3 linked regions of the Homo sapiens genome follow. The protein of the gene in region 1 interacts with the protein of each later gene in a pairwise test. Each region holds a gene or a part of one and is shown on either strand. Other genes may lie near its edges.

What was found.
Region 2: the proteins of RAB31 (region 1) and MAPK6 interact in a two-hybrid assay, tested with the Homo sapiens proteins (one large-scale study listed by BioGRID and IntAct).
Region 3: the proteins of RAB31 (region 1) and MPP3 interact in a two-hybrid assay, tested with the Homo sapiens proteins (one large-scale study listed by IntAct).

What each region holds. Positions count from the first base shown.
Region 1 is NC_000018.10:9,809,271-9,812,827, forward strand, and holds part of RAB31 (ras-related protein Rab-31), read left to right. Parts: intron 1-3,557. UniProt on the Homo sapiens protein: The small GTPases Rab are key regulators of intracellular membrane trafficking, from the formation of transport vesicles to their fusion with membranes.
Region 2 is NC_000015.10:52,043,205-52,046,761, reverse strand, and holds part of MAPK6 (mitogen-activated protein kinase 6), read right to left. Parts: intron 2,985-3,557; exon of another isoform or gene 1,098-2,984; intron 933-1,097; 5' UTR 302-932; coding exon 1-301. UniProt on the Homo sapiens protein: Atypical MAPK protein. Phosphorylates microtubule-associated protein 2 (MAP2) and MAPKAPK5.
Region 3 is NC_000017.11:43,812,604-43,816,160, forward strand, and holds part of MPP3 (MAGUK p55 subfamily member 3), read right to left. Parts: intron 3,477-3,557; coding exon 3,435-3,476; exon of another isoform or gene 2,977-3,434; intron 2,041-2,976; exon of another isoform or gene 1,759-2,040; coding exon 1,594-1,758; intron 1,489-1,593; coding exon 1,408-1,488; intron 1-1,407. UniProt on the Homo sapiens protein: Participates in cell spreading through the phosphoinositide-3-kinase (PI3K) pathway by connecting CADM1 to DLG1 and the regulatory subunit of phosphoinositide-3-kinase (PI3K). Stabilizes HTR2C at the plasma membrane and prevents its desensitization.

The DNA of each region.
Region 1 (3,557 bases):
GCCAAGCCAAGCCTCAGGACTCTCTTTGAGTCCAGTTCTCTTCACTTCCCCAAAGGTGATTCTTGATCACGCGAGGTCCCTAGATGTTAATAAATACTACTTGAAAAAAAGATTTTAAAAATGAATGGGAATTCTGAACTAAAACCAAAATAAATAGGTTTCTTTACTGTAGAAAATTTTCAGAGCCTTTAATGCACTAATTATGCTTTGTAAACCTCCAGGGAAGCATGTGGTGTTTCTCAAACTTATTTGGCCAGGAAACCTTTTTTCCTGGCCACCTCCACGTGGCCTGGTGTTCTGCAGAAGACCCTCAGGAAAATACCACACTAGGCTGTCTTGCCTCATGTGCCATTTAATATTTTACAAACACCTAAGTCTAATTGCTGCTGGATATTCCATCATATGGCTAAGCCAAAATTTATGTGTCCATTCTTTAATTGTTAGACATTGAGATTGCTTACAGTTTTTCAGCATCATTGATAATTTTCAAAGGAATTCTGGTTACTTTGTAACCATCTCTGATTATTCCCTTAAGAGGTGGAATTGTCAAATCAAAGTATCTGAACATTTGCAAGATTCTTGAAACACATTGTCCAGCTGCTTTCCAGAAAGGTCATGCTCGTTTATTTTCTACCAGCTGCGGGCAGGGTTAATGTCCATCTGCGAAAGCTGAGCAGCCGGAGAAGCTCCAAGAGCCTGAAGAAGGCCGTTCCCGTCTCCCCTGCCACAGGGACCTCCAGCAATTAGAAAACAAATAATCACACACACTAAGGACATAAACAGCTATTTCTTTTGAGGAGACACACTGGGTTTTCACAGTTCCCTGTGCCGTTTCTAAATAATTGAATGACATCTGAAAAATTTCTCAACATTTTAATTTGGTCTTCTAGATGTTTTGCTGGGTAGTCAGGGAAGAAGGGATTTTGAATTGGCATCTGTTGTGCTAATTTTCAAATAACCTTTCAAGGTAAGATGTAAAAATAAAGCTTTATCAGCCTCTTGTGACTGTGAACTTTATTTCCAGAAGAATCTTTTTATGTGAGCATTCCATCAGTCTTATTTCTGACCCCACAGGAATTGAATTATGTCATGTTGAGGACTGAGGCTGATTGTGGTGCTTTTGCTTTCTATTTGTAAGGGGGAAAAGCATAAACATTGTAGACTAGAAGTGATTTATCTTTTTGTCCTCCACCAAGATCACCCTTTGGTCAATGCATTATTGGGTTTTGGAACTGAGACGTGAACTTCTAACTCATTAAAACCCTCAAGTCCCCAGCAATAAAGTCATTTAAGTGGCTTCACCAACAGAGATTTATTTCAAAGCGATTCCATTTGGAGGAAGGAAAGAATGAGTAATGCATTATATACCAAGATCGCTTCAATAATTCATGAGACCTCCATGCCAGTGACCGTTTTAGATTCAGTTCATGGTGTTTTAGCCTAAAGTGAACTCTCTCTGTCTTAGAAGACACCCGCAGTTTGCTCCTCTTTGAGCTTGAGTCCATGAATATCTTTACTTTTGGGAAATAAAGTTTGTATTGACTGCTACTTTGTGCGTTTACATGAACCACTCTTATATGGAGGCTATTTTGAAAAAAATGGGCATTTTGTATAATTGGGGTAAAAGGATACTTAATCTGCGGTCCTTACCCTTTGAAAAGTAGGAATGTTTAAAAAAAATTATTGCTTTTTCCTTCCTTTGGGCAGGAATTCTGATTTTGTTTTTTAAGTGTAAGGAGTAGATTGCCAAATGGTGGGTTAAAAATAGATTTATGGATGCCTAATAATTATGCCAAACACAGTGTTGGGCCGTCAGTGAGTACGGAAAGGCATGCATGGCAAATGTCGCTGTCCCCAAGTGCGTTCTGGAATGGGGGCAGTGGGTGGCGCCGGCCCTTCAGCATCTTCGGCCACCGCACAGTTCAGCTGTGAACTCCTTGGTTCACCCTGAGCTTCGTCCAACCTTCTCCCTTTTCTGAAACCCGCAGAGGCTCCAGAGTCCTTTCTCTTCAGGATGGAGACCTGCATGGAGGGACTGGAGGCAGGGAGGGTGGCCCACTTCCTTTCCACACTATTGTGAGTGCCTCACCAGCATTCCTCAGTGCAGTAACAGGGAAACCTGGGGACTCAGATTTCCAAATACCATCATTTCAGTTTGGCAAGTATTGATCCAATGATGAGTATCGTGGGAAAGAAAATAATAAGTTAGGGTTTTGTCGCTTGCCAGAAAAGCTTCAGGATCCACTTCTCCTTCCTCCCTGCTCTCTCCCCACTGCCCAATAAAAACAGCTGCTTTGTTCAAAACTTAAAAACCATATTATTTAAAACTCATTGTAAAAATTTATGCTATACAGATGCTTGTAAGGAAAATGTAAAAATCGCTGGAAATCCCACCTGTTAAGATTTAGAGGAACCTCGTGTTATTCCTGCTCACAGAGACATACTCCCACATACATTTTACCCTACATTATATTATCATATAATGATAAATTAACCACATAATAAATGATAAATTATATGCTATATGTGCTGTTTTGAGACTATTTCTCATCTAACAGTATGTCAAAGATCTCTTTTCCTATAAATAAAAATCATCATTTTAATGGCTATAGAATATCATTACATACATATATGTATTAATCTGTGCACAAAATAACATAGACTGGGTGGCTTAAACAACACACGTTGATTTCTTACCATTTGGGAGCTGGGAAGTCCAAGATCAAGGTGCTGGCAGATTCAGTGCCTGTGAGGGCCCCCTTTCTGGTATGCAGATACTCGCCTTCTTGCTGTATCTCACATAGGGGCAGGGCAGGGAGAGAAGGGAGATCTGGTCTCCTTCTCTCCTTATAAGGGACTAATCCCATCTGTGACCTCATCTAACCCTAATTACCTCCTAAGGGCCCCACCTCCTAATACCGCCACGTTGGGAGTTAGGGTTTCAATACATGGATTTTAGGGGAGACACAAACATTCAGTTCATAACATTATACCATGAGTCAATTCCCATTTACTCCCATAAACAGCGCAGGGATGTGTCTTCCTGCGTGTGATGGTCACTCCAGTATATATTCCTCTAAGTGGAATTGCTGGGTCAAATGGGACACACATTTCAACTTTTGATTATATTACCAACAGTTGCTTTGAAAGAAGATATTCAGCACATTCCATGTAGAGTATGTGTGCCTCCCTTCCCAAACCCACACCAACACTGAACAGCACAAATCTTTTTACAATTTAATAATTTATAAGTGTCTCCTTATTTTTATTGGTGTTCTTCCGATTCTAATTGAACATGTTTTAAAATATTTGTTGGCAATGTATATGTCTTCTGTGATTTACCTTTATATATATCTTTGTCCATTTTTCTATTAAGCCATCTTTTTCTTATTGACTTTCAAAACCCCTCCAGGATACTATTTTTTTTTTTTTTTTTTTTTTTTTTGAGATAAAGTCTCACTCTGTCTTCCAGGCAGGAGTGCAGTTTTGCAATCTTAGCTCACTGCAACCTCTGCCTCCCGGGTTCTAGCATTTCTCCTGCCTCAGCCTCCCAAGTA
Region 2 (3,557 bases), on another chromosome or scaffold:
GTTCCGTAAGAGAGCCCACATCGTCTGTTAATTGGCTTCCACTGGGACCAAGAATCTCAAACACTTTCACAATGTTATCATGGTCAAGTCTTCTAATAATTTTGATTTCACGTAGAGCATGTTTGACACTCTGGGGATCAGTAAGGACAATTTTCTTGATGGCTACTCTTTTGTCACAGTCATTGTCTACAGCAGAAAAAACCAAGCCATTGCCTCCACAACCCAATGGTTTTAAGTCCATATACCTAGAACCCAGATCAAAACCATGAATGTTCATGAGACTTTCAAATTTCTCTGCCATTTTGAAACCCTTACTATTGCCTTTTCCTTTCAAATTGAACTTGTGTAAACAAGGAAGAAAACTGGCATCAAAAGGAAAGATCTTTCAAAAAGGGAGAAGAAAAATAATTATGCTTCCACAGCAAGATGGTTTCTTGATGTTCATTGCATATGCCAAACAGGCCTGTCGAGTTCCCCTTAGATTTAAAGCTCAAAAAGCTCTATTCATATTGAGAATTAAAAAGATTGCAGTACTCATAGTTCAAGAAAGGGGCAGCAACTCTGCAGACATTTAACGAAAACAAGAAACTCAAACGGAATGAAATGACATACTGTGCACTCAGATTACCGTGCTAAACGATTTAACATTTAACAAAAATGTGAATAAATATGCACACAACAGGCTTCTATGAACATTCTCCTCACAGTGCAGATACATTCAGTGTTGGACTGGTCCTGAGCAGCATCATTCTAAGGTGCTGGTAAGCACTATTTCCGTTTTGCTTCTTTTTTTCCTTTGTTGCTATATATTTATTTCAACAGGAAGCCCTGGCGGCTGTTGGTTAACAGAAGATGTCTTTTGTTAGTGATCAGGTGGCTCCAGCTCACCACAATCACAATCAAAGCTACCGTCCATCTTACTCTGATACAACCTGGGGGGATGAGAAAAAGAAGAGAGTCACCATTGCAGGAAATACTCTTTTCTTCAAATTTGTAGTATGACACAAAGTAGGCATTTAGCAATAAACTACTACTGGTACATTAAACTTAATTATGGTCATTAAGTGACAAATTACCCTTAATCAAAAATAGCTTACAAAAATGTTATCAGCAATTCACACACGTTGGCCCGGGCTCCAGATTTCACTACACTAGATTCTTGGTAACAGGCTCATTAGGTTGTACCATTTCTGAAATGCCAACAAGTATGGGAAGGTTCATAATATTTTTATAGAACTTGAGTTTTGTGAGGGGTAAAACGTTAGTAACATCTATCTAAATATCTAAAAGAATATAGAAGAAGCCTGCAATGTGTTAGTTTGTTAAAAAGCATGTTTACTTATTAACTATGCCTATCAATATCCAATGAACAAAAATCTAACAGCACAAATATGCAAATAATGTTCTTCAACTTATAAGAGTAAACTTGAACAATGAATAATACCTATGAAAAGGTATTTAATGTGACTGATAGGAAAAGATTACCTTAAGAGAACATTTCAGATTGAAAAAACATGCATCTCTGTTAATGTCAAGTCTGAGGAGTGTAGAAAAACAAACTTTCACACAATAGTGGTTGGAGTTTAAATTAGTAAAAACTTCAGAGCAATTTGGCATAAACATATAAATGAATAAATAAATAGCGTACTCTATGACCCGGCCATTTTTCTTCACAGTAAACTCCCTAGAGAAATGCTCATTTTTTTTTGGTAAAGAAAATTAGAAACAACCTCAACTTCATAAAATAGGAGAACAGATAAGTAGTTATATGCATGCAAAATAGTTTTTTTTGGTAAGTACATATGTATATTGCAAAACTAAAAAAAAAAAAAAAAGGAAAAAAAAATGAGACAAATACCAAATTCATAATGATTACCCGGAGATTAAGGAAAGAGACCAGAATCATTTATCTGCGTTTTAATGTGTTATTTATTTTAAAATAACAAACATGGCAGATTACTAGAATCTTATAGAGCTGGGTGGTATGTATATGAAGGTTCATTATATTGATCTCTGTACACTTAAAATATTTCATACTTTAAAAAATATCCTATAAAAGGGCAGGAAAAAATAGCCTCAACTCCAGTAGATGGTTCCCTAGCCAGCCTGGAAAAAAAAAAATGCAACTTGGTTCTTTCAGTTTCTTAATGGCCTAATTGCAGAGTACCCAGAATACCAGATATGAGGCATTATGGAAAATCAGGTGGTCAGAATTCCTAACAAATAAGACCAGACAATATTTTAGGCAGAAAGAATAAAGCCACCAATTTATTCGTTTAATATATAAACATATATTGAGCAACTACTATATGCTAGGCAGGAGCAAACCTGATATGAGCAAAAGGATTCTGGCCCTCAGTAAACGCAACTCATTGTCCAATAGGAGAAAGACAGCTTTAATAAAAACTGATACTTACTATATCCCTCAGTTCTTTTAATAAATAAGAACGGGTCTTGTATCTGCTTAATATCATGAAGGATACTAATAGTATAATAGCTTTATTTTACTGTAACAGAAACGGCTTCTCCTGTCTACAAGTTTTTCTCTGCTTCTCAGAAATCAGCCCTCCTAGCCCGCCCCCCCAAAAAAAAAGTCCTAAAAATTCTGTAGCTTACCAGTCTATCTGTAATAAAACACTTAAAAGTTGAAGTTTGTGAATAAACTTTTGAATTAAAAAAATATCTCAAGGCCGGACACGGTGGCTCACGCCTGTAATCCCAACACTTTGGGAAGCCGAGGCAGGCAGATCACGAAGTCAGGAGTTCAAGACCAGCCTGGCCAATATGGTGAAACCCCGTCTCTACTAAAAATACAAAAAGTAGCCAGGCGTGGTGGCGCATGCCTGTAGTCCCAGCTACTCAGGAGGGTAAGGCTGGATAATCGCTTGAACCAGGTAGGTAGAGGTTGCAGGGAGGTAGAGGTTGCAGTGAGCCGAGATCCTGCCATTGCACTCCAGCCTGGGGGACACAGCGAGACTCTGCCTCAAAAAAAAAAAAAAAAAAAAAAAAAAAAAAAAAATCAAACAACTTAAGTCCAACATATCATTTGCTATTATCTAGCTGAGCCATTAGTCTGTCTTTGGTCTTTAGCCAGTGGATTTTCAATGTTGTTATATGATCTAGCTCATGTGATAGTGGAAATAAGTAATAAAAATAAATTTTTGTGGCCAGGCGCGGTGGCTCACGCCTGTAATCCCAGCACTTTGGGAGGCCAAGGCAGGTGGATCTCCTCAGGTCGTGAGTTCGAGATCAGCCTACCAACATGGAGAAACCCCGTCTCTACTAAAAATACAAAAATCAGCCCAGCGTGGTGATAGGTGCCTGTAATCCCAGCTACTCGGGAGGCTGAGGCAAGAGAATCGCTTGGACCTGGGAGGTGGAGGTTGCAGTGAGGTGAGATCACGCCACTGCACTCCAGCCTGGGCAAAAGAGCAAGATTCCGTCTCAAAAAAAATGAATAAATAAAAAATAAAAATAATTTTTGTATTGGTAAAAAAGTTTCAGATTTTTAAAAAGGGCTTTAATACTGCATGTCTCCCTCCCACCAAGTTTTTTCT
Region 3 (3,557 bases), on another chromosome or scaffold:
TTCAGAACCCAGCATAAAAGTCACTGCCTCTGGGAAGGCTTCCCTGACTCCCCCAGTTTCTAAAACAAAGGAGGAAAGTCTCCTATCTGTGGAGTGCCTAGAAGCAGGTGGGCCTGACCATCCAGGTACCTCTTCTCCAGGGGGTGGATCCAAGGGGTTCTGAACGATCAGTGTGTGAGCAACCTCTGCATGTCCTGTTTCAGTCCACCTGAAACTTGGAAGGCCGTGGCTCCCTGAAGCCCTCCAGGTCCATCACAGGTGTGCTGCCAGGATGGCCTCCCCAGGGCCACCACCTCCCCCACATCCCTGCCACTTCAGATTGGGCTGTGGAAGACAGCTCTGACAACCCACAGACTAGACGCTGGGCCCAGGGGCCCAGGGAGAGCGGTGTGATCAAAGCAAGGCTTCATGGTTGCTCTGCCCCAGAACACTCTGAGGAGGCCCCATTAGGGCCCCCACAGCACCCCTCTCAGTAGCCACCAGGCATTCACACTGCATCCCTCTGAGGCCAGGGGGACTGAGAGTGAGTCCCAGAAAGAAAAGGGGCAGCCAAGGGCACGAAGTGGGAGGCGGCAGGTGAGAGGCCATTGTGCATCCTCGTTAAGAACATGACTGGGGCAGGCTGCCTGGGTATGAATCCTGGCTCCACCACTTACCAACTGTGTGACATTGGACAAGTTACTTAACCTCTCTGACCCTCACTGTCTTCCTCTGCCACACAAGATGATAACAATCTCTCTTCTCAGGGGTACTGGGAGGGCTGACGCAGGGCACTACACATAAAAGCTCTTGGTGCATTACCTGGCACCTTCATTCTCCTCCTCCTCATCCTCCTTATCACATTCAGAACCAGGATCCTCTGCCCACTGGAGCTTGACATCCCAGGGTGCCCCTGGCAGCAGTAAGCCCCAGGAATTGGCAGGGGAGGCATCACCCAGGAATGTACCCAGCTACCCTGACAAACTGGAATCTGGCTATAAGGGAGTGCCGAGAAATACCACTCACAGGGCTCTGTGGCTTCTCTGACCTGCCCTCTCATCCAAGCAGAGGGCAGCGGCCACAGGAGTCAAAATTCACTGTGATGAGGAGGAATGCCCCCTACTGTGGGGGCCCCGTGGTGTCAGGTTGAGGCTGCCACTTTGCCTACAATGTGCTCTGGACTCATCTCCCACCCCAGGCAGGAACCAAGCAAGTGGTCCTCCAACTTCTGCCTCAGAGGGTCTCAGAGGACCACTGGGAGTGGATTTCTTCCCATCATGCCTTTGTCCCACAATTTGCCAATAGCAGGCAGTGCCTGGTGATCCTTTAAACCCAAAGTAAGGATTTGGATGGATCTGGGGAGTTAAGTCTCCATGGAATATTTGTGTGTGTGCAGACAAACACACACTCCCACATGGGCCCTCTTACGTGGAACAGCGACGCCAAAGTGCTGTGGGTTCTCAGCCACCACCTTTTGCTTCAGCTCGTGCAGTCGGGCTCCCAGAGACCCTGGGAAACAAGAAGAAGGCTGACCAGGGTCCCTGCTGAGCTCCCTCCCCACCTGCTCCAGGGAGGAAACCAGATCACTTCCTGGAAACCCAGGATGGCACCTACCGATCAGAACCACCAGGCGGGGCCGCTCTCCGGGCTGGTGTTGGTACCTGGCCACCTCTTCGTAAGTCAGCAGCTCCGGAGACTCAGCTCCGGAGGACATCTTTCCTTCCTGCGAGCCACCCAGTCTCTCCCTACAGCCCAGCCGGAAGCTCCTCCGAAGACCAGCTTGGGAGGAGGGGCAGAGGGACACCATGGCATTTGTCCCAGTTGTCCCAGGATCTCCCAGTAGAGACTTTTCCCACCTGGCCAGACCTGGAGATGGGACTGAGTCCCACTGACTTCTCCCAACCTCCTCCTGCTACTGGAAGAGGTTGTTCAGGAAATACAATAATAAGATGAAAGGGTGACCCCTGCATTCACAAACTAGGGCTTAAGGTCACTGTTTTACTTGGCATGTGACTGACCTTGGACAAGTCCCTTCATCTCTCTGAGCCTCAATTTCCTTACCTGTGAAATGAAGATATGAATCTACAACTACTATGTGTGGTCCTAGATTAGATCCTGGACCAAGGGAAAATGTCATAAAGGACATGATGGGGACAATTGTTAACATTTAAATAACAGCATATAACAGATTTGGATACATTTTAAATTCTCAGAATTTGATCACTGCCCTGAGAAAGTCCTTGGCCTTAGGAAATACATGCTGAGAGATTTAGGGTTAAAGGGACACGATGTCTACAACTAAGTCTCATATGACTCAGGAAAAAAAAATTCAGAGATGTGGGAAAGGAAATTGAGCAAACATGGCAAAGGAGCAACTGGTGAATCTGGGTGTGGAGTATATGAGAGTTCTTTGTATAATTCTTACACCTTTTCAGTAAGTTTGAAATTACTTCAGGACAAAAGTTAAGGGGCTGGGTGCAGTGGCTCATGCCTGTATCCCAGCACTTTGGTAGGCCAAGGCAGGCAGATCACTTGATCTCAGGAGTTCAAGACCAGCTGGGCAACATGGTGAAACCCTGTCTCTACAAAAAATACAAAAATTAGCCAGGTATAGTGGCATGCACCTGTAGTCCCAGCTACTAGGGAGGCTGAGAGGGAAGAATCGCTTGAGCCTGGGAGGCTGAGGCTGCAGCGATTTGTGATCACACCACTGCACTCCAGTGTGGGTAACAGAGCAAGACCATATCTCAAAAAATAAGTTTAAAAAAAGTTTAAAAACTTTTTAGAAAGGAGGATTGCTTGAAGCCAGGAGCTTGAAACCAGCTGGGCAACATAGCGAGACCCCATCTCTACAAAAAAAATTTTTTTAATCAGCTGGGCATGGTGTCAGATGCCTGCAGTCCCAGCTACTCAGGAGGCTGAGGTGGGAGGATTGTTTGAGCCTAGGACATTGAGGCTGCTGCAAGCTGCAATGTCACACACTACTGCACTCCAGCGTGAGAGACAGGGCAAAACCCTGTCTCTAAAAAATAACCAAAAAACAAAAAAAACTTTTTGCCTATCTCTAAGACCTTTGAAAAAACTGACCAAAACAAGTGAAAAGGGGCTCTGGAGAGCCGCAAACACCCCTCACTGCGTGGTAGTGGTGTTAATATTGAATAAACTCCAATTGCAATGATGGTGATAATAGAATTGGTATTAATGTAGGGGTGTGTGTGCCTTTCCCGCCAGGGCAGTGTGCCCCACAGCTGGGTAAAAGCTGGGTGGGGGCCCAATGCCTGGGCAGGCTCAGCTCCTGCTTGGGTTGAGAGAACTGAGGAGAGATGGGGGTCCCATAGGCTCCACTGCTCCAGAAGGACTCCTGGGGCTCAGATCACCCTGCTTTGACCTCTCCCTAACTCTGGGGCCTTGGGTGGGGCAGGTCGTGCATGTGGGTGTCAGGGGGAGCTACTTACCCACATAGTGCCCTTTGAGGTAGCCCTCACAGTCACAGGTCTCTGGGAAGCAAACAGAGGGAGGGAAGCCAGTGAGTCCCACCAGACACATCCGGCCCAGGGCACCCAGCCCCTGGATGGCCA